Linked DNA regions of Homo sapiens: all the other regions are linked to region 1. The links come from fine-mapping of genetic effects on gene expression. A gene starts in region 1. Each other region holds a variant in brackets. All regions are shown on one strand. Distances are between the middles of the regions. Region 1 holds the start of SLC27A2 (solute carrier family 27 member 2). Region 2 overlaps HDC (histidine decarboxylase). Region 3 overlaps SLC27A2 (solute carrier family 27 member 2).

What was found.
Region 2: its variant is fine-mapped to the expression of SLC27A2 in whole blood (TOPMed, PIP above 0.99). The same link has a PIP of 0.9 or more in T cells and blood mononuclear cells.
Region 3: its variant is fine-mapped to the expression of SLC27A2 in esophagus mucosa (GTEx, PIP above 0.99). The same link has a PIP of 0.9 or more in sun-exposed skin and unexposed skin.

The regions. Positions count from the first base shown.
Region 1 is chr15:50,175,908-50,186,426 of GRCh38, reverse strand. SLC27A2 (solute carrier family 27 member 2) reads right to left here and starts at 4,231. Exons shown (of 10, transcript NM_003645.4): 1 at 3,522-4,231. The coding sequence starts at 3,999. It also overlaps a transcript of ATP8B4 not described here. RefSeq lists silencers at 3,630-3,729, 4,000-4,339.
Region 2 is chr15:50,241,040-50,251,558 of GRCh38, reverse strand. HDC (histidine decarboxylase) reads left to right here. Exons shown (of 12, transcript NM_002112.4): 10 at 3,216-3,314; 11 at 8,315-8,416; 12 at 8,553-9,612. The coding sequence ends at 9,299. It also overlaps the pseudogene RN7SL494P. Among named protein-coding and RNA genes, the nearest start is that of HDC, 19 kb to the left of the region's middle. The variant AAG/G (reference allele first, on the strand shown) is at 3,605.
Region 3 is chr15:50,203,961-50,214,479 of GRCh38, reverse strand. SLC27A2 (solute carrier family 27 member 2) reads right to left here. Exons shown (of 10, transcript NM_003645.4): 4 at 9,117-9,241. Among named protein-coding and RNA genes, the nearest start is that of SLC27A2, 27 kb to the right of the region's middle. RefSeq lists an enhancer at 3,144-3,723. The variant G/C (reference allele first, on the strand shown) is at 4,744.

The DNA.
Region 1 (10,519 bases):
AACAATGAAAAACAATGGGAAACTAGACTGTTTCTCAAAGCCTAGTCCTCAGACCATTTGTTTCAAAATCACCTAGGGTTGGCGGTGGGGTTTCTTATAAAAATACACATTCCTGGGCCCCAACATAGTCTTACTGAATCAGCATTTTTGGGGATGATCTCAGAAATTTTATTTTTTTGTTTTGAGACAGGGTCTCACTCTATCACCCAGGCCGGAGTGTAGTGGCACAGTCAGAGCTCAGTGCAGCCTCAACCTCCCGGGCTCAAGCAATCCTTTCACCTCAGCCTCCCCAGTAACTGGGACCACAGGTGCTCACCATCATGCCCAGTTAATTTTTGTATTTTTTTTTTTTGTAGAGATGGGGTTTCATCATGTTGCCCAGGCTAGTCTCGAACTTCTGGGCTCAAGTGATCCTCCCTCCTCCACTTCCCAAAGTGCTAGGATTACAGGAGTGAGCCATAGTGTCCAGCCTCAGAATGTTTTTAAAAGTAAGCTTCCGGCCAGGCGTGGTGGCTCACGCCTGTAATCCCAGCACTTTGGGAGGCCAAGGCCGGCAGATCACGAGGTCAGGAGATCAAGACCATCCTGGCTAACACGGTGAAACCCTGCCCCTACTAAAAATACAAAAAATTATCCGGGCGTGGTGGCGGGTGCCTGTAGTCCCAGCTATTCAGGAAGCTGAGGCAGGAGAATGGCGTGAACCAGGGAGGTGGAGCTTGCAGTGAGCCGAGATCACGCCACAGCAGCCTGGCCTGGGCGAAAGAGCGAGATTCCGTCTCAAAAAAAAAAAAAAAAAAAAAAAAAAGTAAGCTTCCTAGGTGATTCTTGGGCTTATTAAAGTTTCTTCTGTAAACTTTTTTTTTTAAAGTATAACACATTCATTAAACTTACAGGATTATAGGGTTAGAATATCTCTAAGGTCCCTTCCAACACCAAAGAATTCTAAGAATCAGTCCATTCAACATATTTTCCCATGGGCATGTTTAGTAAACATGCAACTCTGTGACAGACTGTAATTTTGCTTCATGTGCAAAGGTATCTCAGTGATTTGGAAAAACTGATTTTTTTTCAAATATGTGGCCTCCCTCAGAGGTCAGTTGACGGTCCAGAGAGTGCCTTAGGTCCACTGTAAAGTCTGGTTCACGTTTGAGTTTAATATAGAAATTCCCATATATTCTCTATGTAAACACATAGCTCTATGGCAGACAACTGTTAGCTGGGTGGGAAGAGGGTATCTGGTTGTAATTCTGACTTTATTGCAGAATCAAACTGTATTATGGTCATTTAATCCTGAACTTCTTTGTCAACAAAACTCCAAACCCTGTGACCTCCCTCTCAGGGGACCTGGGATACTAAAGTGATAAACAGAATTTAAATGCTTCCTGAAGTGGTACAAAGATCACTGTGTTAATAATTTCCCTCCAAGCAAGCTGGTAAAGTAATAGGCTTAGGAGAGTCTTCTAGTTACAAAGTAGTGAAGTTATCGCTTTTCTCAGGCAGCTAGAAATTAATGGGAATTTTCTTGAAAGGACCATCTCTTCCAAATAATTTAGCCACCTTTAAACTTGTCTTTTTTTTATTCTGTTTTTTGAGATGGAGTCTCACTCTGTCCCCCAGGCTGGAGTGCAGTGGCATGATCTCGGCTCACTGAAACCTCTGCCTCCTGGGTTCAGGTGATTCTCCTGCCTCAGCCTCCCAGGTAGTTGGGATTACAGGCACGCGCCACCATGCCCAGCTAATTTTTTTTTTTTTAGTCGAGACGGGGTTTTTGCTATGTTGGCCAGGCTAGTCTTGAACTCCTAACCTCAAGTGATCCACCTGCCTCGGCCTCCCAAAGTGCTGGGATTACAGGCTTGAGCCACTGCGCCCAGCCTAAAATTTGGCTTTCTGCTTTTAAACTTTTATACAAAGCCTATATTTTTTGGATTATTTATTTCATGCCACATGAAGCAGGTGTGTAAGATTCCTGGTTTCTCACAAGTGAATTAACCTTTCATCTTTCTGTAACCCGCTTAGCTTGCCTCAGTTTCCCCAGCTATGAAATGAAGGGGTAGAGCAAGTGGACACTTCATCCCTTCCAGCACACTTAACAGTTTACATCCATGCAGAGGAAAACAATAAGATGTAGGAAAGAGGCTGGGTGTGGTGGCTCACACCTGTAATCCCAGCACTTTGCGAGGCCAAGGTGGGTGGATCGCTTGATCTCAGGAGTTTGAGACCAGCCTGGGCAACATGGTGAAACCCTGTTTCTACCAAAAATAACAAAAAATTAGCTGGGCATGGTGGTGCATGCCTGTGGTCCCAGCTACTTGAGAGGCTGAGCTGGGAGGATCGCTTGAGCCTGGGAGGCAGAGGTTACAGTGAACTGAAATAGCGCCACTGCACTCCAGCCTGGGCAACAGAACGAGACTGTCAAAAAAAAAAAAAAAAAAGATGTAGGAAAGAGCATGGCTTCGAAGTTGGATAGAGCTAGGTTGGAATTTTAAGCCTCAGTTTTCTCAACTGTATAATGGTGGTGGTGGTGGTGGGGATAGTGATATGTTATCTCCCGGGGTAATAAAAGCATCTACTATAGGGCTTAGCACAGAAATGCATTCTAGAAAGCTGAGGCTCCTCGGCTCCCTCGACCCCTACCCTGTCACCCAGGTCTTTCAGCCCACTCCTGTGTAGGCCTCTTCTTACTGACTGAGAGAAGGAACCCTTGGTCCTTATTCAAGTGCAGAGACAAGCTCTCTGGGAGGGGAAAGCCATCAGCCCTGTGAGTAACAGGTTCTCTGTCACTTCCTGACCTTGTCATCACTTAAGTTACTGTTTCAAGTCTGGCTGAAATGTGGCAGGAGCTAACCACAGAACTGAAAGGGTCACTATTGTGATAGATGCAGTGGGGGCTCACAACGGTCCTGTAGCAGATCCCCAGTATCTTCTCCCTGGGGATCAGGTGGGGTCACCTTTGTTCTGCAGGGAGGGGACAGGATGCTAACAGCAGTTGAGAGCTGGAAGCAACATTGAAGCCTGCCTCATTAGAGAGGAGCAAACCAAGGGACAGAGAGGAGAAGTGACTTTCCCATGATCACACAGCCAGTCAAGCAGCAGAGGTGAGAAGAGCCCCTCTGGATCCACTAGAGTTCGCACTCAAGATCCTCTGCATTTTAATGCAGATGTTATAAGTATTGATTAAGAGCTTGGAATTTGGAGATAGATGGCTGGGCATGAGGCTTCACCTCTCAGGACCTCAGTGGTCTCATCTATAAAAGTCCTATAACAAAGCCTACCCATTGTGAGGATTAAAAACCACACTGCCTGTAGAGTGCTTAACACAGAACCTAGCACATTATCAGCTTCCACAACAGGTGGTCCTAAAAGATCATTATTTGCGATTCAAGGAAACACTGCCAACCTTTTTCTATACCTACAGTTCCGATCTGAACCTCCCTCTGCGAACCCCTTATGCCACGCTGTGGCTCGTCAGTCAAGGCGCCGAGAAGCCCTGGTGCCAGGGCAGGGCGATCCTCGGGGCTCACCTGGCGACACCAGCAGCACCTTCGCCCCGCAGCACTGGAAGCAGTGCAGCAGGGACTTCGCGCGGATGTTGTAATTGAGGCACGCCATGGCACAGCCCAGCTTCACCAGCCCCAGCCACAGCCACACGTAGGCCGGCTCGTTACCCATAAGGAGCGCCACGCAGTCTCCCTGGCGCAGGCCGAGGTGGTCGTGCAGCGCCCGGGCCACTTGATTGCTGCGCCGGTCCACCTGCGCGTAGGTGAGAGTCTCGTCGCGGAAGAGCAGAAAAGGCTTGTGTGGCGTCTGGCGCGCTTTCTCCAGGAACGCCCGCAGGATGGTGCGCGCCGGCCGCCGCTTCCCGTAGCTGCGCACCCTCCGGCCCACGGCGGCCACCTTCAAGAAGTAGCCTATGTCCTGGAAGAAGTATGGGCAGCAGAGGTTCACCAGGAGCGGCAGGAACAGCAGTCCCGCCAGGACTGTGTAGATGGCGGAAAGCATGACGGCTGCGGGGCCCTCTGTCCCAGCGAGGGCAGAGGGTTCACCCCGGGCGTGCAGCGCGGCGACTGGGCGGGCTCCGGGCGGACTGGCGGGCTGCGCCGGGGCGCACGCGGCGGGACGCCGGGCTCGCGTGAGATGAAGGGGAAGACAGAGCTCCTCCGCTGCAGGTACCGCCGCGGGCTCCGGAGCAGGTGTAGTCGTATGCGCGTTGCCGGGGGTTCCGGGCAGGACTGGCCGGCTGAGCCCGCCCCCTTGTGGGGGGCAGCCACCTGCTCTCCCGGCCCTCCCACGCGGTCCTCCCGGGGCTGGGCAGGCTGCCCTGCGGCTCACCAGGAGCCTCGGCCACTTCCCAGCTCGAGTCTGGAGGTCTGGGGTCAAGTCTGGACCTCCTCGCGTTGTGACCGAAGTACTTTACCTCTAGGAGCCACGGTTTCTTTAAATGGTGATGAGACGCGCTTAGCGGACGTTGGGAATATTAAAGGAGATATTGCAGGCGTGGGGCTATTATTTGTTACCACTAATAGAATGGCTTATGGAGATGACACTGTTATTACCGATAAAGTGCCTTATAAATGTCAGACAGTCCTATTATTTATTAATAGCGGGTACCAGGTGCCACTGCCAAACCAGAATCTCATCTCTCCTTCCTGGTCCCAAGGGCTTTCCGCCTGGTCTCTCTTTGTTTCTCAGATTTGCTTCCCAGCCCGACTGCCAGGCGGTCTCCTGTAGCGAAGGCTTCAAGGTTGAACAGAAATGCCTGTGGCAGTCACGTCCAGCTCATCCCAAGCCCTGCCAGGTGAGTGAGGGCAGGACACTCTAACCTAGTCGGCCCTGCCTGGTCGGGGGAGTCCTGATTTCGTGAAGAGCAGTGCTACACCGCACCACCTGAAATCAAGCTTTGACATTATTTTACGATTTTGTTCTGTTAAGTGATCCTGCTGTTCCCTCATGTTGAAAGTTGTCAAGTGTTGTCAGCACAGTTCACACATTTAATAAGTGGCTCTGTCAGAGAATAGTATAGTACAGAGGACATTGAGTAAGTGGTATTGGCATGACTCAAAAACCATTTCTTTTAGAGGAAATGTGAACCTTTCTTTTAATTTGCCTTAGTGCTACTTCTGTACGAAGTGAATGCTCACTACTTGCCACTGAGGAGGGTCAGGATCTAAGTAGTGTTTTATTTTCATCCTCTACTGTCCTCCTGTGTTCCTCTATCTTAATTTGATACGATAAATACAGATAATGCTTATTCCTCCCAGACACGCTGCTAGGAGCTTCCCTATGTTACATTTTGGGAGCCTGAGTTATTTTATACAGGTGGCACTTTCATGCTCATTTACAGACAAGAAAGGGAAGCTTAGGTGAATTGAGACAGCCGGTAAGTAATTCGTGGGTTTTGGAAATGGTATCTGTTTGGTCCCGGGGAACCAACTCTTAGCTTATTCTTAGTAACTATACTATGCTGTCCTCCTATTCTCTAGGTTTCTGTCCATGTCCTCTTTTTTTTTCGGTGTGTGTAAAACACACAAAAATGTTTCACATTCCCTCCAGGCCACCCCCTGCCGTTTTTTAGCCTCCTTTTCGTATCCCTAGTAACTGCGCAAGCAACCTTTCCCTTTTCCTGACTTTTTCATTTCTGATCCAGCTACCTGGTTGCATCATTTCCCTGGGGATGAGCTGGGGGCCTTCATCATCCCTGAGGAGAAAGCAGTAGAATTAACCAAAGTGAGGGCCCGACAGAAACCATTCTCATGTGCACTTCTTTCATGGTGAAGCTCAGAGCCAGCCCTTCCTTTTTCATCCCAATGCCACCCTCGTCCCTTGATGGCTAATCGCTTCTGTGTAGCCACCTGCACCCCTCTTCTCTTTTCCTTGAACAGCTACTGTCTACCCAGAGTGCTAGATTACCACAAGGGTCCACTTTTTCCCCTCTTATTCTGAGGATCACTTTAACCTCAGTTACAAGTAAAAGAAAACAAGACCCAAGCTAGCTGAAGCAGAAACAGGAATTTAAGTAGTAACTGGAGAGTCCGGGGCTAAGACATCAAGGATTTTAAATGCTGACACCTGGATCTAGTTTTGCTTTCACTATTTCTCCTCTGCACCTCCTCTGTTCTCATTCAGGCTCTCTGGTTTTTGTCCAAAGATGGCTGCCAACAGCCCTTAGGGGTACATGCTTTCTGGCTCAACTTCAGAGAGAAGTACAGGAATCTTTTTCTTAGGAGTTCTCATAAAAAAAAAAATCCCTGACTGGATTATGCGCCCATTTCTGAACCAATGTCTGTGGGTCCTGGGGAAAAAGGTGCTAGTTGTTTTAAGCCAATCAGCGCTCACCCATGGGGGTGAGAGTATAATCAATTTCACCTAGGCCATTTTGTGGAACGTTTTACGGTATTATTAAAAAGTGGGGTTAGGGAGAGTAAATTTGGGGAAGTAATTTTCAAATGTCTATAATATATACCTTGGGAGTCCCAGTGATTCCAGCTTTGAGCCTGGGATCCAGCTCTTGCTTTATCACGAGGTTAATAGATGTCTTAGTCTGTTTGGGCTGCTATAACAAAATACTGTAAGCTGGGTAGTTTATAAACAACAGAAATTTATTTCTCAGACTTCTGGAGGCAAGTCTAAGATCAAGGTGCCAGCAGATGTGGTGTTTGGTGAAGGGCTACTTTCTCACAGATGGTGCCTTCTCACTGTGTACTGTTTGGTAGAAGGGACAAATTACCTCTCTGGGGCCTGTTTTATGAGGGCACTAATCCCATTCATGAGGGCTCTGCCCTATGATCAAATTACTCCCCAAAGGCTCTACCTCCTAATACCATCACATTGAGGGTTAGGATTTCAATATATGAATTTTGTAGGGGACATGAACATTAAAACCACAGCAATAGTCTTCCTGGAAATATTGCTGCCATCTTATATCTCCACTGCTCAATTATCTTTAGTGGTTCCCCATTGCTTCCTATTGTCTTCCACCAATGACATCTATAGACAGTTGTACTTGTACAGCATACTAGAACATACCTGGCCTAGAGTTGACCAGATGCCCTGGCTTCTGCCTGACTCCTTTGAAAGGTGATCGATAGCTTAGCACGTTGGCTGCCCATTCTTGGTACATCTCTTGGGAACCTCTGGTCTATAAAATGAAATTTAAACTTTATTTTCTGGCTCTTCTGAATCTCACTCAAGCTTTCACTACACTCAATTGACAAATATTTATTGAGTTTCTGCTATGAACCAAACATTATTAGGTATTAAATATTTTAAAATGGACCAAAACTTAATTCTAACTGTTCCTTTTCAAGCGCACTTTGTTTTTAGCAAGTCTGGTCTGCACACTCCTAAAAATGCCCTGCACCTTCCTCTTTCTACTGGCTTGTTCTTACCACTTTCCACCCCTGACCATCCTAACCCTGTAAATCTCAACTCTCCTTTAGGGCAGTAGTTGTTTGATTCCTGAATTTCTTAGTCCCGTGTTATATTTCGAAACCAAGTTAGGGACTCAAAATAAGTAACGACTTCTTAATTTTTCTAGTAAGAACAACCCCCTCCCCCATCACAGTATATTTGTTATTTTATAGAAGAATGACATTTTTGGCACTAAAAAAGTATACCTGAACTGTACACTTAAAAATGGTTAAAATAGTTAATTTTTATGTTATGCATATTTTACCACAATTTTAAAGACAGTAACAATAAACATATAGCCCTTTCCAAGAAAAGACGAAGACAATGTTACACCAACACATAAAAAGTACAGAAATTATCCAAGTGTGGGGGCATGCACCTGTAATTCCAGCTACTCGGGAGACTGAGGCAGGAGGATCACTTGAGGCCAGGAGTTCAAGACTGGACTGGGCAACACAGTGAGACCCCATCTCATATGAAAAACAAAACAAAATAATCTTACAAATTCTCACAAACAGATAAAAATAAAAACATTAAAAATATTTTTGAATGTAGAAAACTGCAACTTTTGTCTGGGTTTTTATACCATATAGAAATTGTTTTTATACAAGTTTGTCTATTCAGTAACATAAATTCCACAGGGAAATATGAAATAGAGCCAGATCTTGGACTTTGATGTAATTTAGGATTTTGTCAGCACTGAGATCTCAGACATGGAGATTCTCCGTCCCCATAGGCTTAGTTAAGCCTCCTCATTCCACTTCTCCCATTCTCTGACATTACTGAGCCTATTCATTTCCTCTATCAAGATTTCGGTCCCTTCCTGGCCAGTCACTTCAACGTGGCCTCCTAGACCCCTCTTTTCCTTAAACTTTCTATCCAGGTATAGATGACCTCAAATGCCCACTGTCTTCTGTCCTATTCTAGGTATTGCAGGAGAAGTTTAGGGGCAAGACAGGATTACTGGGTGTGCATACTGACACCTTCTAGCCTTGGTCAGGACGTTCATCCCTATCATCTATCTCTGCTATTTGAGAGAAGGCTTCCTATTGGCAGTCCCAGACCTTCCCTACCCCCTTCAAAGTTTCCAATCCCAATCTCAAATGTTCTTTTAAAGCAGGTGGCGTCCCTTCCTACTTTATGGAGATGAAGTAGTTCACTATTTCTCAAACTTTACAAGTCTGAGAATCACCTGGGGAACATGCTAAAATATAGTTTATTAAGCCCCATCTCCAAAATTTCTGATTCAAAGAATTCACATCTCTAAGAAGTTACCAGGTATTGCTGACACTGCTAGTCCAGGGACTATACTTTGAGAACTACTGATTTAGTCCATTGGCTTCCAAACTACTCGGTAGAGCCCTAGTGGCTGAGAAGTTACTGAGGAGAGTTCATTGCATAGAGTGGGAAAGGGGCTCTGGGAGGATCCTACCCTAGCTCCAATCAAAACAGCTCATATACTTGTTTTACACTTCCATGTAGAGTTCATGTGAAAAAAAGTATTCCCAAACATTTTCCTTTAAATCTTCCAGCCCATGCTGATCCAGCCCTTGTACTGAACTTATAAACCCATCGCATAGGTGGGCTTTTGATTGTTTCTTACCTGTTAGTTTTGCCTTCGTAACTAGAATTCAATTTCCTGGAATGAAGTAATAGAAAAGATTGTGAGACTTGAAGCCAGAAGACCTGATTTTGAGTCTTTATCTGTCATGCATTGGCTGAGTAGCTTTGAGAAGTGTACTGAGCTCTCACAGTGACTTGTGTTAATTTTGTAGAATTTGAGGCACCTAATGCACAGGGCCATTCTTGACAAAAAAGTATAGATTATGAAGCTTGCAATTTTTGTGACATTACATACTTGGTACAAATAGAAATTTTGTGTGACTGACTCATTCAGTGGTTTGTGGGAAGAATAATCTCTGACTGTTGTTGCCATAAGTTAATCACATTTCTTGAAATGTGGGTGCCTGTCATCCTATTGACTGTCTAGCATGGTACCATTTGAGTATAGGCATACAGGATGTGCAGGTATTCAGCCAACAAAATGGCAAGGGTTTGATGGAGGTGGTATGTGATAAGATTGACCCTCTTTTTGGAGAATGAAAAAAAGGTGAGACTGAGAACAACTGATTATTGATATTAGACATGACAGAGCAGGAAACCCTTGCATTGGCATCCCAGTTGTGCTTGCTACACAGTCAGGACAATTTATAATTTGAGAAAAAGATGTTTGCCCTCTTTAGTTCTGACCAGAATGTCTTTGATTAGGTGTTGAATTCTAACTCAGGGAAAACTCCTGATGAAATCATCATTGTTTCTAGTGCTAATATGTGTGCTAATTCTCCAGATTTGGTTTGTATTTTTTCAACAGCTTTCTCTCTCTTCTTTCAATATCCCACTGCAACACACATACTCTCCATCCCAGTCACAATGTACTCTTTTTTGGATTTTATTATTTATTTTGTTTTTTATTTTTTAATTTAATTTAAAAAATATTTTATTTTTCCATAAGTTATTGGGGTACAGGTGGTATCTGGTTACATGAGCAAGTTCTTTAATGGTGATTTGTGAGATTTTGGTGCACCCATGACCTGAGCAGTATACACTGCACCAGATTTGTAGTCTTTTATCCCTTGCCCTCCTTCTACTCTTCCCAAGTCCCCAAAGTCCATTGTATTATTCTTATGCCTTTGCATCCTCACAGCTTAGCTCCCACATGTCAGTGAGAACATACGATGTTTGGCTTTCCAATTCTGAGTTGCATCACTTAGAATAATAGTCTCTAATCTCATTCAGGTCACTGCAAATGCTGTTAATTCATTCCTTTTTATGGTTGTGTAGTATTCCATTGTGTGTGTATATATACACAATGTTTATATATAGTGTATATATATATGCTGTGCAGTATATATATATACACACTATATATATACTCTGTGGTATATATATATATATACTCTGCGGTATATATATACACTCTCTCTATACTATGATATATATATACTGCGATACATATGTACACACTATATATATCACAGTATCTTTAACCACTCATTGATTGATGGGCATTTGGCTTGGTTCCATGATTTTGCAATTGTAAATTGTGCTGCTA
Region 2 (10,519 bases), 65 kb before region 1:
AACGAATGTATTACACATAACCTGGCCAACGGAGGCAGCAGAGCAGAGTGGGGGCAAGCTTGGTTTGGAATTCCATTCCAGCAGTGGCCCTTTGGGAAACTAACTGGACCTCTCTGAGCCTTGCTTTCCTTATCTGTAAAATGAGAATAGTGGCATTGATTCATAGGGTATTGTGAAGCTTAAATGGGAACACGTGTGGATCACCTAGCAAAATAGCCGTGTGGCAAGTGCTCAATATATGGTAGGCATAGTATTTCTGAAAGCTCTTCTTTGAAGCTGCAGAGATTTGTTAGGACAGTGGTTAGGCATGTAGGTGCTAAAGCCAGATGGCATGTGTTGGAGTCCTGGCTTTCTGTTTACTAACTTGTGTGACCTCGGGCAAGTGACTTAAACTCTGTGTCCAGATTTCCTCTTGTGTCAAATGAGGCTGATGACCACAGTTCTGGCTTCTTAGGCTTGCTGTGAGGATTATACAAATTAATACACTGAAGTGCTGAGAGCAGTGTCTGACCCCTGTAAGCATCCTTCCTTGTGAAGAGATGGTTTTATCTTATCTTCTTGGACAACTGAAGTGTCTTGCCCTTTTAGTCTTAAAATAATAGCTTCGTCATCACTTGATTATACTGGCTATTCTCCCTTGGACCAGTCCACACCCTCTTTAGATATTTGAAGCTTTTGGATTAGAATTGCAGCGGTAAGCCTCACGGCTTACTGGTGGTGACAGAAGACCCTCTAGAGGTAAAGAAAGAAAGAAAAATAATGGTTCTTTATCTCCACTGCTCTTTCTGGTAGGTTTTCAGAGATTTTTAATGAAAAATTAAAAAAATTCCAGAACAGCCCAAGGGTCAGATATCTTTAGGGATAACTGTAGGTTTGCTTCCTGAGTGTGAATTGATGCCCATTCTCCTATGAGTGTATTTGGGTCATCATAACTGAGGAGCATTATATTCACCCTTGCCCTTTTGAATTTCATGTTACCGTTTAAATTCATTTACCACAGTGCCTCAGGATCTTCCCGGGGTTCATTCCTAGGAGTTTGGAGATTTTACAGTGCTCTCTGTCTTCCAGATAACTCATAAAAATGTTAGAGTAAACTCTTCCCAGCCCTGCTCTGGGGAACCTTATTATTTTTACCTCTCCACCCAGAAGGCACTGCCTTACACTTACCCTTCCCCCACCTTTAATCCTATGGATTTGATTTTCAAGTCCATGAAGAAACTCCTAGAAAAGTGAAGTTGCTATCTTTTTCATGATCCTGAGGGTCCTCAGAGCTACTCTCACCTGGGCCCAATGTCTTTCCCACCCAGGTGGCTGCAGCTTTGAACAGAAGCTCAGTCCTGCTCTGAGATGAGCCAGAAACAGGGCAGCATCCCAGGAGAGAAGACTTAGGTGCTTAACCCCTGGGGTCCTGGAATCACCTAAAATCAGGGCTAGATTCTCTGACAGCGGAGAAGCTCCCTGTTTTCTGCCTCTCACTGGACAGAGAGCACCAGTGGAGGGAGCGTTACCTTAGCCTTGGCAAGGGAGCCCTGCAAGGACCTTACAAGGACACAGAGGAGGCTGGAGATGCCTCAAGGTAAAGAAGAGCCCTGTCAGGCTTTATACGTCCAGATTTTTTGATCCAACAGAAAATGTTGGCTAGAACCACTCTGCTGAGTCAGCATGGATCAGTTTTGGAATAGTGACAAGAAAAGGAGCAACTGGGAATAAGGAAGATTGTGAAGAAATCAAAATAAAATCACCTCTGCCTATCCTGGTTTATTTGCTGGTAAAATAAAGTAGCTCTCTCTATATATGAAATAAATTGGCTATAACTATCTGGAAACCAGAACCTTTTGACAGATGATCCCTATCATCCGTTCATTATTCTCTTGGAGTGTCCATTGGACAAGAGGTGGAGTTGACACTTTCCTTGTTACAGCAATTTTGTTCCATTTTCAGGTTTTGATGCCTTCTGCTGGCACAAAAGCCCCCAAGCTGCTCCCCAGCACAACAGAGTTTTGCTTGGAAATCAAAGGCTTAGTAGTTTTCTGCTGGGGAAACATTGTCCATCAACAAAGGGGTAACATCCCAACTGTGCCTGGCTCAGGAAACTGGGGTGAAGGGTGAAGGTGAGGACATTTGTGAGGATTTGATAATCTTGTGTATGGGCAGATAAATACGCAGTGGGACAAACATTTATTTTTAGTCAACAGAAATTGTGGTAGAAACTTTCTGACGTTTGAGGGAGATGTCATTAGGAAACCACGTGACTCATTAGAATAACTGTAAATGTTTTCCAAATCCTCTGCTCTATTTTCAGATCTGAGAAATCAGTCTGAAATTGATTTGGAAATTTTCAGATGTATGGTGACTGCAACCTTGAACTTTAAGCTCTGTTGAATTTGGCCACCAGGAGCAAAGAGTCAATTTTCATCTAACAGCGGCAGAAATTTGGGTGCTCATTTGAAATCTGACAGCTGGAGTGATGGCTCTCAGATCACAGGAATCTCACAGGAAAATGAACAAGGCAGTGTAAGGTTAAATAGGGGTCATCTTGGCTCTAGACAGAAATGCTACTGTGATTTGTAGCTCACATTTTAAAATAATCTAAATAGCCAACACCTACTGACAACTTCTTCTGAGGCTCTTGGCGTTCTTTGTCCTCACACCACTTGCCCGGGAGGTGCAATTGGTTCTTTATGTCCCGGACTGATGAGCCAGTGAGGTGGCACTACCCAAGGTCACACAGCTAGTAAGTGGCACAGCTGGAGGCGAAACCTAGGTCTGCAGGGCTCTAGTGTCTGTGCTCTAACTACCATACTTTACATTTTGGGAGGAATAAAAATAGAACTTTATTTTCTGCTATTCAAGGAATAAAGATTCATTTAGAGTAAAAATGTATTTCCCTTATGTTGAGTTTCTGGGCCGGGATGAAATGTTTAAAGCAGCACTTGAAAGCAAAGTGCCCTTCTCATTGGTTCAGGGTAATGGACTTGACTTCCACTTGTCTGGCTCTCAGACAAGTGACTATTGGCCACCTTCATCAGTGATTTGGTCACACGATGGGGCAACCCTTGGGGAGCTTGGCTTACTCCTTAGCAACAGCTCCCAGAGTCATGGTGACATCGTCCATCCCTGGAGGGCTGGGCAGGCAACAGATAATGCCCAGAAATGCCCGAGGGAGTGGGGCACCCTTGTCTCTAACCTTGGGCACTGTGTTCCTTTGTTTCTAGCACTGGCAGATCCCCCTGAGCCGACGGTTTCGCTCTGTTAAACTCTGGTTCGTGATTCGGTCCTTCGGGGTGAAGAATCTTCAAGCACATGTCAGACATGTATGTAGCATGCTGCTGTGGGGGCTGAGCCTGTGTTCCTCTGTTTTCTCATGGCGAGGAAGGCTGGTTTCTACTTTGCAGATCTGCCTAGGAGACTTGCGGTGTGTGGTTCAGGTGTCTGGGCCTGTTCCTCAGCTCCTGGGACTTGATTCTCTTTGTTAACCAGAGGAGCGCTGAGCACAACATGCCCTGAGGGCTGCCTGATGCCTGTCCTCTGCTGAGTGTCTCACCGTTCCCCTTGCTGTCACTGAGCACTGGGGAGGGTTGGCCCCAGAGTCTGGTTTGCAGGA[AAG/G]AGAAAGAGAAAGTAAATCAAGGGGAAGTGTGTGTGGCCAGGGTAGGATCCTATCTGCTTTGGAATTACCTCAATGGTCACAGCTGGCTGAATATTTTAGCACTATTATGATTATGCCTGAAATAAAGCTCCCCTGGCTTGGACAGGTAGACCTACCAAGTCTGGAACAAACCTCCCTGCATCAACAGGCATTTATTGAAGGCCTATTTTGCTTAATTTATTTCTATTCAATTCAACAATTACAAGGTATTGTGCTAAGAAAGGGACACAGAGGTAAATGAGACAGGTGCAGCCTCTCTCCCATGTTCTTCATGGAAGAAGCGGGACTTAACTAAGAACTCTGGCCACTGGCATTGTTCTCCCACTTCTACAAGAGTCCACATGCAAGACAAAGCCATTGATAAAAGTAGTGGGGGAAGCTGAAGACACTGTCCTTTCTGCCTATGTGTGTCTTTGTCCTTCCACCTTTCCTCTAGGGAATTCCTTCTTGGTTAAACAAACACAAACCAAAATGAAGTGGTGGAAGCGGTAACTATGATTTTTTTTAACATTTAAAAAAAATAATTATTATGCTTACATAATAATTACGTATATATTTATGGGGTATGTGTGAGGTTTTGATACAGGCATACAATGTGCAATGATCAAATTAGGGTAACTGGGTATCCACCACTCAACCATTTATCATTTCTTTGTGTTAGAAACATTCTAGTTCCATTCTTTAAGTTAGTTTGAAATGTACAGCAAATTATAGTTAACTATAGTTGCCTTATTGTGCCGCCTAACATTAGATCTATTTAATTGTATTTTTGCGCCCGTTAACTATCACCTCTTTATCCCCCATTCCCTGCTACCCTTCCCAGCCTCTGCCAACCATCATTCTACTGTGCGTCTCCACGAGCTCAGTTTGCTTACTTTTTAACTCCCACGTTTGAGTGAGAACATGTGAAATTTGTCCTTCTGTGCCTGGCTTATTTTGCTTAACATAATGTTCTCCAGTTTCCTATGACTGGTTTTAATGTTGGTAATTTTACCTTTGTAATCACCACTGGTTGTTTACCAATGAGCAGCTGCCACCAACAATATTGAGGAACTTTAGGCACTTTGTGCTGTTTCTAGAAATGCAGACTCAAGACTGGAGGGTTGTGGGCGGGGAATGGTTGGTGGAGGTTACAAGTAATTAGGAACATTTTTTTGCTTACAGTTTGGGACTGGATATTCAATGTGCAGATCCTGACTAACCTCCCTTAGCACTTCTGTTTGCAAATCAAACCCCTGAATTCCTCCTATTAGCAACCCCATTGCCTACCATATGAGGCCCACACTCCTGGGCCTGGCTTTCAAGGACTTGACGATTAGCTCCTACCTTAGCTTGGGCATTTCATCGACCCATCCAGACCTCATGCTCAGTCCATCTCTGCACCTTCACCCGTGTCCTTCACCTGAACTACCCTCTCCTCTCCAAATGTTGTGAATGGATTAAATTCTGCTTCCACTAGAAGCTTTTCTGCCTATTCCATCTGTTCTGGTTTCTGCTTCATTAGCATTCCTGTGATCACCTACTCAAACACCTTTACAAAACTGTGCTCAAAGTTCTTCCAATGTCCCACAATAGAAGAAATGGAATTAAAATAAAGTTGTTTGATATGATTTGATTTTATCTCTTCAACTTGACGGTGATGATAATTATTGACACTTGCGTAATGCCTTCAATACAAAAATAAATTCTAGTTCTTCATTAGATCCTTAGCACAGTGCCTGGGGTGGTCACTCTAACCTGGCAAGGCTCAGAGGGAGTAATTGCCCTGCTTGAGGGAAGAAGGCCCGGGACTTTCCCTGAAGCCTCCCAATTCCAAATCCTTTCTTCATAGTTCTGGGCTGCTTTCTACTACACTGAGCTCTTGGAAAGTTATATAAAATTAAATTTCATATTTCTGTGTTACAGAGAAGTGCTTTAAAGAATGGATTTTTAGTTCTACCCTTTACTGTTTGATGACCTTAGACAAATTACTTAACCTTTCTATATTTGTCTGCCTTATTTATTTATTGTTATTTATTTTTGAGATGAGGTCTCTGTTGCTCAGGCTGAAGTGCGGTAGTGCCATCAGAGCTCACTGCAGCCTTGACCTCCCCAGGCTCAGGTGATCCTCCCACCTCAGCCTCCTGAGTAGCTGGGACTACAGGCGCATACCATCATGCCTGGCTACTTTTTGTATTTTTTGTAGAGATGGGGTTTTGTCATGTTGCCCAGGTTGTTCTCACGCTCCTGGGCTCAAGCAATCTGCCTACCTTGGCCTCCCAAAGTGCGAGGATTACAGGCATGAGCCACCACCCCTGGCCATGCCTTCCTAATTTATAAAAATGAGAAAAGGATACTACCTCTCTCAAATTAAATGAGATAATATATATGCAGCCCTTAGCACAGGGTCTACCTACTACTCAGTTAAGTACTCAATGAGTACCTCTTCCTCTTCTCTTCTTCCCCTTCTTCATCATCTCCTTCTTCATCTAATTATAATAAATTGTCATCATCATCACCATCATCATCATCATCATCCTCATCTCCTATCACCTACAATAGGGATTGGTAAACATTTCCTGTAAAAAGCCAGATACTAAATACTTTTGGCTTTGTGGGCCATACTCTATTGTAATTACCTCTGTACTACAAGAGCTACCGTAGACAATATGTAAACAAATGGGAATGCTGTGTTCCAAAAAACTTTACAAACACAGGTGGGGGCTATATTTGGCCATGGCTGCACTGTGCCTGCCCTTGACCTAGAGCGGTGCAGGGCACTGGCAGCAGCTCTGCTTTCATGACCTGTAAAGTGGGGCTTTGGAGGTGGCAGTGCTGCCTGTGCTCTGTATTCTCCTCTCCCCTGACCTCTGCTTCTGTTATTGCAAACAGCATGTGTTGTAGGAGGGATAAAAGCACAGTGGGAGGAGATCTACCTACTGTCACTTGTACCTTGGGAAAGTCACTTTCCCTTGGTTCCTTCTAAAAAATGGAAAGATTGAGCTGGGCACAGGGGCACGTGTCTGTAGTCCCAGCTACTTGGGAGGCTGAGGTGGGAAGCTCAATTGCTCCCACCATAGCCCAGGTGGGAGTTCTGGGCTATGGTGTGCTATGCCAATTGAGTGTCCGCACTAAGTTCGGCATCAATATGGTGACCTCCCAGGAGCAAGGGATCACCAGGTTGCCTAAGGAGGGGTGAAGGGGCCCAGGTTAGAAATGGAGCAGGTCAAAACTCCTGTGCTGTTTGAAACTGACCACGCAGGGGAGAAAGGGGCTCTGAGAAAGATTTGGAGAAACTCATTTCATTATGGTCAAAAGACAGGCTCAGGGCCAGACATGGTGGCTCATGCCAGTAATCCCAGTACTTTGGGAGGCCTAGGAAGGAGGATCGCTTAAGCCCAGGAGTTTGATACCAGGGTGAACAACCTAGTGAGACCACTGTCTTTACAAAAAAATTAAAAAATGTAGCTGGGCATGGTGGTGCATGTCTGTAGTCCTAGCTACTCAGGAGGTGAAGGTGGGAGGATTACTTGAGCTCAGGAGTTCAAGGCTGCAGTGAGCTTTGATTGTGCAACATGCCTCTGTACTCTAGCCTGTGTGACAAAGCAAGACCCTATCTCTCAAAAAAAAAAAAAAAAAAAAAAAAAAGAGGTTCAGCTAACTCCCTTGCCCTCTCTTGAAATAGAGCAGTAAGTATGAGAACTAACTGATAGAATTACTTAGCAAATATTTTATTGAGATCTTCTGGATGCTTGGAGAAATTTTTAAAAAGAAAAGAGAAGGCAAGTCCTGTCCTTGTTTAGTTAGTAATCCTGGGTTAAAAACAAAAAGCAAAAAACCCCAGGACATTTAAAAAGATGGTATGAACTTCAGTGGAAGATTAATATAATACAAAGCCTTTAACATTTTAAAATTGTAACAAAATATTCATACCATAGAATGTACCATTTTACTCATTTTTAAGTGTACAATTCAGTGGCATTAAGAATACTCACAATGTGGTGTGACCATCACCATTATTTCCAGAATTTTTTCATCATCCCGAGCAGAAACTCTGTATCCATTAACCAGGTCCAAAACCTTTCCATGATGGGTGGAGACAAGATGTGAAAATATGTTCTCTATGGAATGTCAGAAACAGGGGATGAAAAGGGCATTTGGGGTACAGGGTGAGAAGAGGTTTGAGAGGCAAGTGAAGCATGTAGGCTTAGGATGGGGCAGGGCCGCCACTAGCCCATATGGCAACTTGATGTGCACTACAAACAGGCATCTCTTCCTTTAGGCACACGCAGCTCGCATGAGGCACCTGGCTGGGAACGCAGAGCATGGACTGGGTTTTGGCCCTCACTTGCCCACTTGGCCAGTCAAGGAGCTGTGAAATCAGGAGTTGAGGCCGGGTTGCCTGGACTGCAAAGCACATGCCTTCTGGGTTCTGGGGCTGAGTTGAAAGAGGGCCCTGAGATGAGTTCTCGAGGTGGATCCCATGTGACAGGAAACAGGGCGCCATTGGAAATTTTCCAGCTTGGAATATGAGCAAAATCAAATGGAGATGACAATGAGGCAGAAGCCGCTTACAACGGCTGTGACGGGAAGATGGCCCTGGTTTAAAACCATTTAGCAGTCTGAAAGTTTATGCATAGTCTCTTGTCTGATGATTAATCTCAGTTCTCTTTATACTTGCAATTCCAGGGTACTGAAATGGCTAAATATTTTGAATCTCTGGTCAGAAACGACCCTTCCTTTGAAATTCCTGCCAAGAGGCACCTTGGCCTGGTGGTTTTTCGTCTAAAGGTAATACCATCTTCCAAGCCCCTCTGTGAATGATGTCTTGTGGTGCTCCAGAGCCTCTCGGAAACACAAATGCTGGGCTCTGGGGATGCTGACAGGGGGTGCGATGGAGACTTCACTTCCTTTATTTTTCAAACAGGGTCCTAATTGTCTCACAGAAAATGTGTTAAAGGAAATAGCTAAAGCTGGCCGTCTCTTCCTCATCCCGGCCACTATCCAGGACAAGTTAATCATCCGTTTCACTGTGACATCCCAGTTTACCACTAGGGATGACATCCTGAGAGACTGGAATCTCATTCGAGATGCTGCCACTCTCATCCTGAGTCAGCACTGTACTTCCCAACCCAGCCCTCGGGTTGGGAACCTCATCTCCCAAATCAGGGGTGCCAGAGCCTGGGCCTGTGGAACGTCCCTTCAGTCTGTCAGTGGGGCAGGAGATGATCCAGTCCAGGCCAGGAAGATCATCAAGCAGCCTCAGCGTGTGGGAGCCGGTCCCATGAAAAGGGAAAATGGCCTCCATCTTGAAACCCTGCTGGACCCAGTTGATGACTGCTTTTCAGAAGAGGCCCCAGATGCCACCAAGCACAAGCTGTCCTCCTTCCTGTTCAGTTACTTGTCTGTGCAGACTAAGAAGAAGACGGTGCGCTCCCTCAGTTGCAACAGTGTGCCAGTGAGTGCTCAGAAGCCACTGCCCACAGAGGCCTCTGTGAAGAATGGGGGCTCCTCCAGGGTCAGAATCTTTTCCAGGTTTCCAGAAGACATGATGATGCTGAAGAAAAGTGCCTTCAAAAAACTCATCAAATTCTACAGCGTCCCCAGCTTTCCTGAATGCAGCTCTCAATGTGGACTCCAGCTGCCCTGTTGCCCTCTGCAGGCCATGGTTTAGACACAGGGCCTTCAGCCAGAGTCTGAGGATATACTTCAGGGACTCTGTGAACCCCTCACAATTGTATGCCAACTTTGTGTGCTTATGTGTACATGCATTTTTCTTGGGGCGAGTTCATAATTTTAATCAAATTCTCATAGGGGTTCATGACCCACAATAGGATACAAACGAAGAGTTTAAGCCAGCATGATCCAGATGGGTTCAGCAGTCTGGTCAGTGAGAAAGGGCCGAGGGTAGACAGGCAGCTTCTGTGGTTCAGCTTGTGACATGATATATAACACAGAAATAAATTATGCTTGTCCCTGAAACAAAACATACCCTGTGTCACTTAATTGGCTGCTGAAACATTGATTAACCAGTCTGGGAGCTTAAACATATGTACTTTTTTTGAAGCATCAATTATGAGTCAGGCACTGTGGCTCATGGTTCATAAATGAGGAAACCAACGTTTAGGTCACACAGCTTTAAATAGGCAAACCCAGGTCTCCTGGCTTCCAGTGAAGCCCAGGCTGTTTCCACCATGCAGTACTGCTCAAGGTTGGACCTGAACAGGAGCTCACAGCCCAGCAGGCTGCTCTGGTCCTCCAGTACATTTAAATGTTTCCTTTCTAGGTTTGGAACTTGTGCATTTTCCCCTTATTTTCCTGGACCCGGTAGTCAAATAAAAGCTATGCTCACAAGTGGCTTGCCCATAATTAGTTCAGAGGCCAAACACATAATTTTATTTCCATTTCAGATGGTACTTTGATAGGTTGTGACTCTGAAATGGGTTATGTAAAGAGTATTAAAGACAAACAAAGCTGGGCATTAGTTAGAACTTTAAGGATAGATGTTAAACAGTAATATACTATCACAATAGGGAAAAGGGTCCCATGTGAACTGAACTCAACTTGGATTTGTGCAAAGGTGACTAGGCATTTCACAGCGTGAATGGGAGAATAGGGAGAAGGCCAGCCTAGACTTAGAAGAGTCAGGAATGTGAAAAATTACAAAAAGCGGAAAGTGGTTGATGTGAAACCCCTCTGGGTTTGCTAACTGGTGCTTTTTGAAGTAAGACTCTTACCCTCCCACAGAGACTGGGAGTCAGGGCCCTGTGTTCAGGGGTTCGCTGGAACAAACAGTTAATTCTTTCGGCAGCTTTGAGTTTTCTTAAGCAGGCACTTTAAGGTGAGCTAGGATCAACTTAGGGATGTGGCCTTGAGCTGTGAGAAACTGTGTTA
Region 3 (10,519 bases), 28 kb before region 1:
TTCTGGCTCTATGGAATGAATTAGGGAGGGTTCCTTCTTTCTCTATCTTGTGGAATAGTGTCAAAAGAATTGGTACCAATTCTTCTTTGAACATCTGGTAGAATACTGCTGTGAATCCATCTGGTCCTGGACTTTTTTTTGTCGGTAATTTTTAAATTACCATTTCAATCTTCCTGCTTGTTATTGGTCTGTTCCAGGGTATCTAATTCTGATTTAATCTGATTTAAGCCAGGAGGGTTGTATTTTTTCCAGGAATGTATCTAGCTCTTCTAGGTTTTCTAGTTTATGTGCGTAAGGGTGTTCATAGTAGCCTTGAATGATCTTTTGTATTTCAGTGGTGTTAGTTGTAATATCTCCTGTTTTGTTTCTTAGTGAGGTTATTTGGATTTTTTCTCTTCTTTTCTTGGTTAATCTTACTAATGGTCTATCAATTTTATCTTTTCAAAGAACCAGCTTTTTGTTTCATTTATCTTTTTTTTTGTTTGTTTGTTTGTTTCAATTTCATTTAGTTCTGCTCTGATCTTGGTTATTTCCCTTCTTCTGCTGGGTTTGGGTTTGGTTTGTTCTTGTTTCTCTAGTTTCTTGAGGTGTGACCTTAGATTGTCTGTTTGTGCTCTTTCAGTGTTTTTGTTACAGGCGTTTAGGGCTATGAAGATTCCTCTTAGCACCGCCTTTGTTGTATCCCAGAGGTTTTGATGGGTTGTGTCATTATTGTCGTTCAGTTTGAAGAATTTTTTCATTTCTGTCTTGATTTTGTTTTTGACCCAATGCTCATTCAGGAGCAGGTTATTTAATTTCCCTGTATTTGCATGGTTTTGAAGGTTCCTTTGGAGTTAATTTCCAGTTTTATTCCACTGTGGTCTGAGACAGTGCTGGATATAATTTCAATTTTCTTAAATTTATTGAAGTTCATTTTATGGGCCACCATGTGGTCTATCTTGGTGAAAGTTAGAAAGTTATGCGCTGTTGAATAGAATGTGTATTCTGCTGCTGTTGGATGAAATGTTCTGTATATATCTGTTAAGTCCATTTGTTCCAAAGTATAGTTTAAATCCATTGTTTCTTTGTTGACTTTCTGTCTTGATGACCTGTCTAGTGCTGTCAGTGGAGTATTGAAGTCCCCCACTGTTATTGTGTTGCTGTCTATCTTATTTCTTAGGTCTAGTAGCAATTGCTTTATAAATTTGGGAGCTCCAGTGTTAGGTGCATATATATTTAGGATTGTGATATTTTCCTGCTGGACAAGGCCTTTTACAATTCTATACTGTCTCTGTTTGTCTCTTTTAACCACTGTTGCTTTAAAGTTTGTTTTGTCTGATATAGGAATAGCTACCTCTGCTCACTTTTCATGTCCTTTCACATGAAATGCCTTTTTCTACCTGTTTACTTTAAGTTTATGTGAGTCCTTATGTGCTAGGTGAGTCTCCTGAAGGCAGCAGTTGGTTGGTGAGTTCTTATCCATTCTGCAGTTCTGTATCTTTTAAGTGGAGCATTTAGGCCATTTACATTCAATGTTAGTATTGAAATGTGAGGTACTGTTGCTTTCATCATGCTCTTTGTTGCCTGTGAACTTTTGTTTTTTTGTTGTTTGCTTTTTCACTTGTATTCTTGTTTTATAGGTCTTGTGTGATTTATACTGTAAAGAGGTTGTGTTATGATGTGTTTGCAGGATTTGTTTCAAGATTTAGAGCTTCTTTTAGCAGGTCTTGTAGTGGTAACGTGGTAATGGCGAATTCTCTCAGCATTTGTTTGTCTGAAAACGACTGTATCTTTTCTTCATATATGATGCTTAGTTTTGCTGGATACAAAATTCTTGGCTTACACTTGTTTTGTTTGAGGTGGTTGAAGATAGGGCCCCAATCCCTTCTAGCTTGTAGGGTTTCTGCTGAGAAATCTGTTAATCTAATAGGTTTTCCTTTGTAGGTCACCAGGTGTTTCTGTCTCACAGCTCTTAAGATTCTTTCCTTGGTCTTAACTTTGGATAACCTGATGACAATGTGCCTAGGCAAAGATCTTTATGTGATGAATTTCCCAGGTGTTCTTTGTGCTTCATGTATTTGCATGTCTAGGTCTAGCAAGGCTTGGAAGTTTTCCTCAATTATTCACCCAAATATGTTTTTCAAGTGTTTAGAATTGTCTTCTTCCTCAGGAACATCAAGTATTCTTAGGTTTGGTCTTTTAATCCTAGACTTCTTGGAGGCTTTGTTCATATTTCCTTATTATTTTTTCTTTGTCTTTATTTATTGGGTTAATTCAAAGACCTTGACTTCGAGCTCTGAATTTCTTTCTTCTACTTGTTCAATTCTATTGCTGAGACTTTCCAGAGCATTTAGCATTTCTAAAAGTGTGTCCAAAGTTTCCTGAATTTTTGCTTGTTTTTTTCATTTACTTTTTTTTTTTTTTTTTTTTGAGACAGAGTCTCACTCTGTCTCCCAGGCTGGAGTGCAGTGGCGCGATCTTGGCTCACTGCAAGCTCTGCCTCCCAGGTTCATGCCATTCTCCTGCCTCAGCCTCCCGAGTAGCTGGGACTACAGGTGCCTGCCACCACTCCAGCTAATTTTTTTGTATTTTTAGTAGAGAAGGGGTTTCACTGTGTTAGCCAGGATGGTCTCAATCTCCCGACCTTGTGATCTGCCTGCCTCAGCCTCCCAAAGTGCTGGGATTACAGGCTTCAGCCACCATGCCTGGCCCTGTTTTTTTCTTTAAGCTATCTATTTGCTTGAATATTTCTCCTTTCACTCTTGTAACGTTTTTTTGGATTTCCTTGCATTGGGCTTCATATTTCTCTGGTTCCTCCCTGATTAGCTTAATAACTAACCTCCTGAATTATTTTTCAGGCAAATCAGGGATTTCTTCTTGGTTTGGATTCGTTGCTGGTGAACTAGTGTGATCTTTTGGGGATGTTGATGAGCCTTGGCTTTTCATATTAGCAGGGTTGGTTTTCTGATTCCTTCTCATTTGGGTAGGCTCTGTCAGATGGAAGGTCTAGGGCTGAAGGGTGTTGTTCAGAATTTTGTCCCATGGGGTGTTCCTTTGATGTAATACTCTCCCCCTTTTCCTATGGATGTGGCTCCTGTGAGCCGAACTGCAGTGATTGTTGTCTCTCTTCTGGGTCTAGCCACCCAGCAAGTCTACCTGGCTCTGGGCTGGTACTGGGGGTTGTCTGAACAGAGTCCTGTGATGTGAATGATTTATGGGTCTCTCAGCCATGGATACCAGCACCTGTTCCAGTGGAAGTGGCAGAGGATGCAATGACTCCATGGGATCCTTAACTTTGGTGGTTTAATTCCCTGTTTTGTGCTGTTGGCCTCCTGCCAGGAGGTGGTACTTTCCAGAAAGCATCAGCTGTAATAGTGTGGACAGGCACCAGCAGTGGGCAGGGCCCTAGAATTCCTAAGATTATATGTTCTTTGTCCTCTGATACCAAGGTGGATAGGGAAGGACCATCAGGTGGGGCCAGGGCTAGGCCTGTCTGAGCTCAGACTCTCCTTGGTCAGGTCTTGCTGTGGCTGCTGTGGGGGATGGGGGCGAGATTCCCAGGTCACTGGAGTTGTGTACCTAAGAGGATTATGGCTGTCTCTGCTGAGTCATGCAGGTTGTCAGGGAAGTGGGGGAAAGTTGGCAGTCACAGGCCTCACCCAGCTTCCAGGCAACCTGAAGGGCTGGTCTCACTCCCACCGTGCCCCCTCAACGGCCCCGAGTCTGTTTCCAGGTGGAGGGCGAGTCAGGCTTGAAAACTTGCCCAAGGCTTTCTGCCTCCCAGCTGTTAAAGAAAGGGCTTTAGTTCTTCTCCGCCTGTGGAGTCTGCAAGCCAGATTCACACCCTCCCTGGAGTTCTGGCCAGGAGTCTTCTTGCCCCGTTCAAATTATCCCAAAGTTTAGCTAGAGAATTCCTTCTCCCTGTGGAGTTTTGCCCCCTGCTCCTCTGGCCACCCTCCTGATGGATCCCTGTGGTGCCAGGCGGGAATGGGCTGCTAGGGGAGCCAGTGAGCTCCCAGGGCCTTTCTGCAGCTTCCTCTACCTTTGTATTTTGCTCGGTTTGGCTCTCTAACTTGACGAGGCTCCAGGTAAAGTCGGGAAGTTCTACAAACAGACCTTCAGCTTCTCCAGTATGTGTTCGGGAGATGAGGGTCTCCCTTTCCCACTTCTGCAGTTGGGGCGATCACAGTATTTGGGGTGTCTCCCGGGTCCTCTAGGAGCAATCCACTTCTTTCAGAGGGTCTGTGGGTCCTCTTGGGGTTGCTGGTTAGTTCTTGCAGTCAAGCTGGAGCTAAAATTCACAATGTGAGCCTCTCATGCTGCTCTGTCTGGAGCCACAATCTAGTCCTGCCTCCCGCTCGCCATGATCCTGTCCTCCGTATTTTACTTCTTACACAGATTTTCAAATAACTCCCCTGTTTTAAGTCTGACACTTCATCCCACCTTCAGCTGTATTCAAAGCCTGCAATTTCTCAGCCTTCAGGAAGGCAACTGGCTTCCTTCCTGTTGGGACTTGCCTCTTAAGTTTCACCCTTCTCAGCCTACTATGTCAGTCACTGTTATCTTTTAGCTTCCTATACTATGTAGTTCATGGTTGCAATGTCTCTTAGTTTCTGAGATGATGGTGCTTGTGTGTGTTTTTCTCATCGCCTTGTTTTGGGGTGACTTCCAAGAGGTGAAAGGGAAGAAGGTCTTTATCACCTTAGAAAAACTCCAGAGTCCCTGTTCTTAATAATTAATATGTTACACTTCTGCCTGGACAAG[G/C]CTCCACCTGTTTGCTTTACAGAAGAGGCCCTTCATCCTTCTGTGTATTCTCACATCGTAGCCAAAAGGACTGTCTAAAAATGCCATCTCCCACATTGCTCTTCCATGTAAGGCCCTTTAGTCATGGCTTGTCATGTTCACATTTGAGTCTCAGCAGAGTAAAGCCCTTGCCACCTGACCCAGCCCCTCAGCTTCACCTCCTGCCAGACTGCTTGCAGTTCCCAGTGTGCTGGGTCCTTCATCTCACTGCTCACGTGATTTTCCTGCTAGCCAGAAGCCCTTCTTTTCTTGCCTGGCTGCAGAACTTCTCCGTACTCTTCAAAGCCCACCTTCCCTGGCGAACCTTCCTGATTCTGCTCCCCTTCCCTCTTTCTTTTGGCCTCCCTCTGTCTTGGGCCCCAGTCATATTGGCCACTCTCCACTCTGTGCTGCAACAGATCCATCCATTCTCTTTTTTGAACAGAATGAAGCTGATGCAGAGACAGAAATTTTAGGCTAGAAGGGACCACAGAGGTTATCTAATTCTGGGGGGACGCAGTCAACACTAGAGGTAAGTTGAATCTATTCAGCTTTTTCAGGGTTCTGGCCAATATTATTTCTCCTTCCAAATATCATGGTTCTATGTGTGGCCCCTGGAACTCTTTTTTGGTTCCCTTTCTGTCTTCCTCCTCCCACACTCCAGCAGGTGTCATAAAGCCTCATTGAGACCCCTGTACTGGAGCCTTGTCCAGTACAGACTGTAGCTTCAGTCTGTAACTGGAGGAAAGAAACACTGAGCTTTAGCAATATCATGCTCCAATAAATAACTTTCCCTAGATGACATTGTTTTTAGGCAACTACAAAAACCGAATGGGAGCTGACAACCATACACTGCAAGAAATGAATCAGAATGGCCTTTCATTACAAACAGTCGCTTTGAAAGCAAAGGCCCAAATACAATGCGGGAAGACGGCAAAATAGAAAATATTCACTATAATATTTTAAAAATCACTTAAGTCAGTAGCTTTGCTATCCCATCCCCTACTCAACCTCAGATGAGAGTGATTAACTAAGTAGAATGTTTTCCCTTATTTCTTCCTTTGTGTAAGTGGGCAGAATTTTCATTGATTCATTCAACAAATATGTATGGGGTACTTATTATGAGCTACACACTGTTAGGCATGGAAAGTGATAATGATAATAATGGCAACATGTGTTGAGAATTTACTAAGTTCCAGCTACTATGTGGTTTATATATATCATCTCAGGTTGTCTTCATAGACCCCATGTGAGGTAGGTACTATTATCTCCTTGTTGGCTGACGGGAAGCTGAGATTTAGAGAGGTTAACTATCCTGCTCCAATGCCAGAGTCAGAATGCAGGCCGACTAACTCCAGAGTACTTGCTCTCAGCATTACTTTAAGTACCTGGGGCCAAATCTGAACCACTGACCTGAGCAGGGCTGGAAGCATTCTCCATAGCCCACTGCTCTACTAGAGAAGCTACTGAATATGGTTAAGAAGAGGGCAGAGAAGCACAGTGGCTTCTACCTCCCAACACTGGCCCCAGATTCTCCTGATGAGCTGGGCCATATATGTCTGTGGATGGGTGTCACTTGGTTTAGCTGTTCTGCTAAGGCAGAGGTTGCCTCCCTGGCATCCAGTGCTTGGGGGTCGCTGGTGGGGTTAGTCCCTCCAGCAACAGCGTATTCTAGGCAGCTCTAAGGGTGAAGAAGTTCCTGATTACATTGATCCAGGCCCTTCCCCCATTCATTCTAGTTTTTATCCAATTCTTTTTTTTTTTTTGCAAAGTCTTTTTGATATAATCTTTCCCTACATCCCATACAATCTGTACTTTCTACTTCCTATGATGACCTATGATTAAATTTAAAAAAATTTGCATAGATCTCCTGCTTGTCTAATGACATATGATTGTTTTCTTTCTTTCTTTCCTTTTTTTTTTTTTTTTGAGACAGGGTCTTGTTCTGTCGCCCAGGCTTGAGTGCAGTGGTGCAATCTTGGCTCACAGCAACATCTGCCTCCTGCTTTCAAGCGACTCTCCTGCTTCAGCCTCCTGAGTAGTTGGGATTACAGGCACGTGCCAACAAGCCCCGCTAATTTTTGTATTTTTAGTAGAGACTGGGTTTCTCCATGTTGGCCAGGCTGGTCTTGAACTCCTGACCTTGAATGATCTGCCCGCCTCTACCTCCCAAAGTGTTGGGATTAGAGGCATGAGCCACCGTGCCTGGACTGATGACCTATAATTTAAAAAAATCTTTAACTGAAGGTTTTTTTTTGAGATAACTTTGATCTTTTATTATACTTTTTATAAATATTTTCCAAACAGAACTCAGGGGTGGGGAAGCACTGGCAAATAGGAAGTCCAGGGGTCATTCAAGATTATGCATTAAATCATAGTATATTTTGAAGTTGTAAAACCCCAGTGAAATTGTCTTTGTTTTCCAGTATTTGAGACAACAGTAAGAGAAAAACTGGGAGAGTGCATGCATGTGTGTATGTGTGCATGTGTATATGTGGATATGTGTGGGCCTGAAGACAGCTACACACAAACATATTTATTTTCGTCCAGTCCAAAGGAAGCTCCCATTAGAACATACAGAAACAACACACACTCCCCAGGAGATTTTCTAACTGACAAAGGAGTGCCTTTAAGGTAGAGAAGAAAAGCCCAGCAGAAGGGTCCCATATGGATTTCTGGATTTTAATAGAGAGACATGCTATCTTGGAGGCCACGTGGAATATTAATGTGAAAAAAATTCAATAATGACATGAACAGAACTGCTGTGGAAAATACCCTAACCCAACTCACTGCTAATGATGATCCTCGAGAATCTATTGAATATGCCAAAAAATCAGAATAATATGTGCTAAGCCCAAACATTTTGGGGAAACATTTTAGCTCCCTCAACTCAACTACACATTTTTCAGGGGCAAGGATTTAGAGGTTCAGTCCACAAAATCTGTTGATGCCTATGATGTGTCATTTACAGATCTTGGTGCCGTAGATCTGGTAGTGGACAGAGCCCCTGCTCATATGCGGCTTTCATTTAATTGGGGCGAGGGGGGGCAGACAATAATCACATAAACCTTTACTATGTCAGGAGTGACAGGTGCCATGAAATGCAGTGACAAGCTGGACAGTGAGGGGCAGATGATATGTTTGATTATTAGCAGAAGAGGCCTGTCTTCTAATGAGGCAACATCTGGGCAGAGACTGAGTAAAGTGAGGTGAGAGAGACCTGGGGGAAGAGCATCTGACACTTCTTTCTGCGTCACACGGCAGCTGGTATGTTAGGTGAGTACAACAGGTGCTTATCAATAGCAATTTATCAACTTAGTGATCCTTTGAGTTTAAACTGACTGAATAAAGGAACTAGAATCTGGTGAAAGGGATTAGAATCTGGTGAGTTTACTGCATTGTCTAGTACAGTGGTTCTCAACTAGGTTAGCATTTCCCTGCCAAGAGACATTTGGCAGTTTCTGGAGACATTTTGATGATCATGACCTGGGGAGGTGGGGAGGTTACTACTGGCATCTCGTGGGCAAAGTCCAAAGGGTGCTAAACACTCTACAATGCACAGAATAAGTCCGCGCGGCAAAGAATTAAAAGCCCAAAATGTCAGCAGTGCCACCATTGATAAATCCTATCTGATACCAGATCTCTGATGAGAGTTGAGGGACTGGGCAGGAGGAGCTCTTGAGAACAACCCCATCGAGAGCTGAACATCTGCAAACAGGGCAGATCCAAGGCCATTGGAGATGCCCTGGGGCATCTGTTCCCAGCTTGGTGACAGACTTGGCTGGCTGGTTTCAAAGTCACACAGAGATTTATTTGTTAAACAGCATTAAGTAAAAGTTTCCTGTATGCCTTCGGTATAACAGAAAACAAGGAGACAAGATGTGGTTCCAGCCATCAAAGATATTACAGCCAAGGAAGGATGGGAGACATGAACACAAACTCCTGCAACATGACAAGGGCCACAGAGGGTAGAAATAAAATGACGTAGGGGAGAAGAGTAATGACTTTTGTTGGAGTGACCCAAATATGTTTAATGTATGAGGTATCATTTGAACTGGGCTTTGACACTGGCTTTTAGTAAGCAGAGGGGGAAATGCAGGATATGCTAGGTGGGGAGTAAGATGTGAAAACAAGTAAAAAGGCAGGAAATAATCATCATCATAATAATAATATTAACTCCCACCTACTAAGTCCCCTCTATATGGTAGGTATAGTGCCAAGTACTTTATCATGATAATTGTATCCTAAACTCAAAACTGATATATGCAAATCAGTTGAAGCCTAGCACAACCCAAAGTGACTTGAATTTCCATCTTACCCATTTCAAAATGATAGTAAAACGGGGGGAGTGTTACCTGTGGTGAGTTGCATAAATACCGAAGCAGTTCACCGATATACTGAATGACAGTGACGTTGTATTTTCTGCAGTCATCCCAAAACTGGCTGGCTGAAAATTTAGTCCGCAAGGCAAGAGTAGCACCTACAGAGAAAGCACAGAAAGTGTCAAGAAAGAAATGGTGGAAAAAATTCTCCCAGTTATGTTTAATTTGTCAACTTTGAACGGTAGAAATTTAAAAATAAATTATATTTGCAAACAAGTATTGAGTACCTTATATTCAAATGCAAAAAATTAGTAAGACATGGTTTTGTTCGATAGGGGCTTCCAATCTATGGAGGAGAAGACTCATACAAAGGTCATTTTAATAAAAGTTAGCTTGCAGTAAGAGATTCAAATGAAGTCCTAAGAGGGAGGGAGGGGAGAGGGAAAGAGATTTCATGCAATATATATATATATTATATTATATATATACTAAATATATGTATAAATAGAGTGAGACTCTGTCTCAAGTATATATATATACACACATACATATATATACACACACATACATATATATTATATATATACACACACACATACATATATATGTATTTTATATATATATATTTGAGACAGAGTCTTGCTCTATTTTTTTTTCTTTTTTTGAGACAGAGTCTCGCTCTGTCACCCAGGCTGGAGTGCAGTGGTGCCATCTCGACTCACTGCAACACCCGCCCCCCAGGTTCAAGTGATTCTCCTGCCTCAGCCTCCTGAGTAGCTGGGATTACAGGCGCGTGCCACCACACCTGGCAAATTTTTTGTATTTTTAGTAGAGAAGGGGTTTCACTGTGTTAGCCAGGATGGTCTCAATCTCCTGACCTCGTGATCTGTACCCCTTGGCCTCCCAAAGTGCTGAGATTACAGGCGTGAGCCACCGTACCTGGCCCGGGTCTCACTCTATTGCCCAGGCTGGAGTTCAGTGGTGAAATCTTGGCTCACTGCAACCTCTGCCTTGTGGGTTCTCGTGCCTCAGCCTCTAAGTAGCTGGGATTACAGGTGGACACCATCATGCCTGGCTAATTTTTGTATTTTTTAAGAAGGGATGGGGTTTTGCCACGTTGACCAGGCTAGTCTCAAACTCCTGACCTCAAGTGATTCGCCCACCTCAACCTCCCAAAGTGCTGGGATTACAGGCATAAGCCACTGTGCCTGGCCCATTCATGCAATATTTTAAATAACTTTGTGCATAAAACAAAGTTTGTGTTAAGTACTTATGTGTAGTATTTTCCACTTGTGGTGTCCTGGTGCTTAAAAAGTTACAGATTTTGGAGCATTTTGGATTTCAAATTTTTGGATTGTGTGTGTGTGTGTGTATGTGTGTGTGTTTGAGCTGCTATAACAAAATAGTACAGATGGGTGGCTTAAACAACATTTATC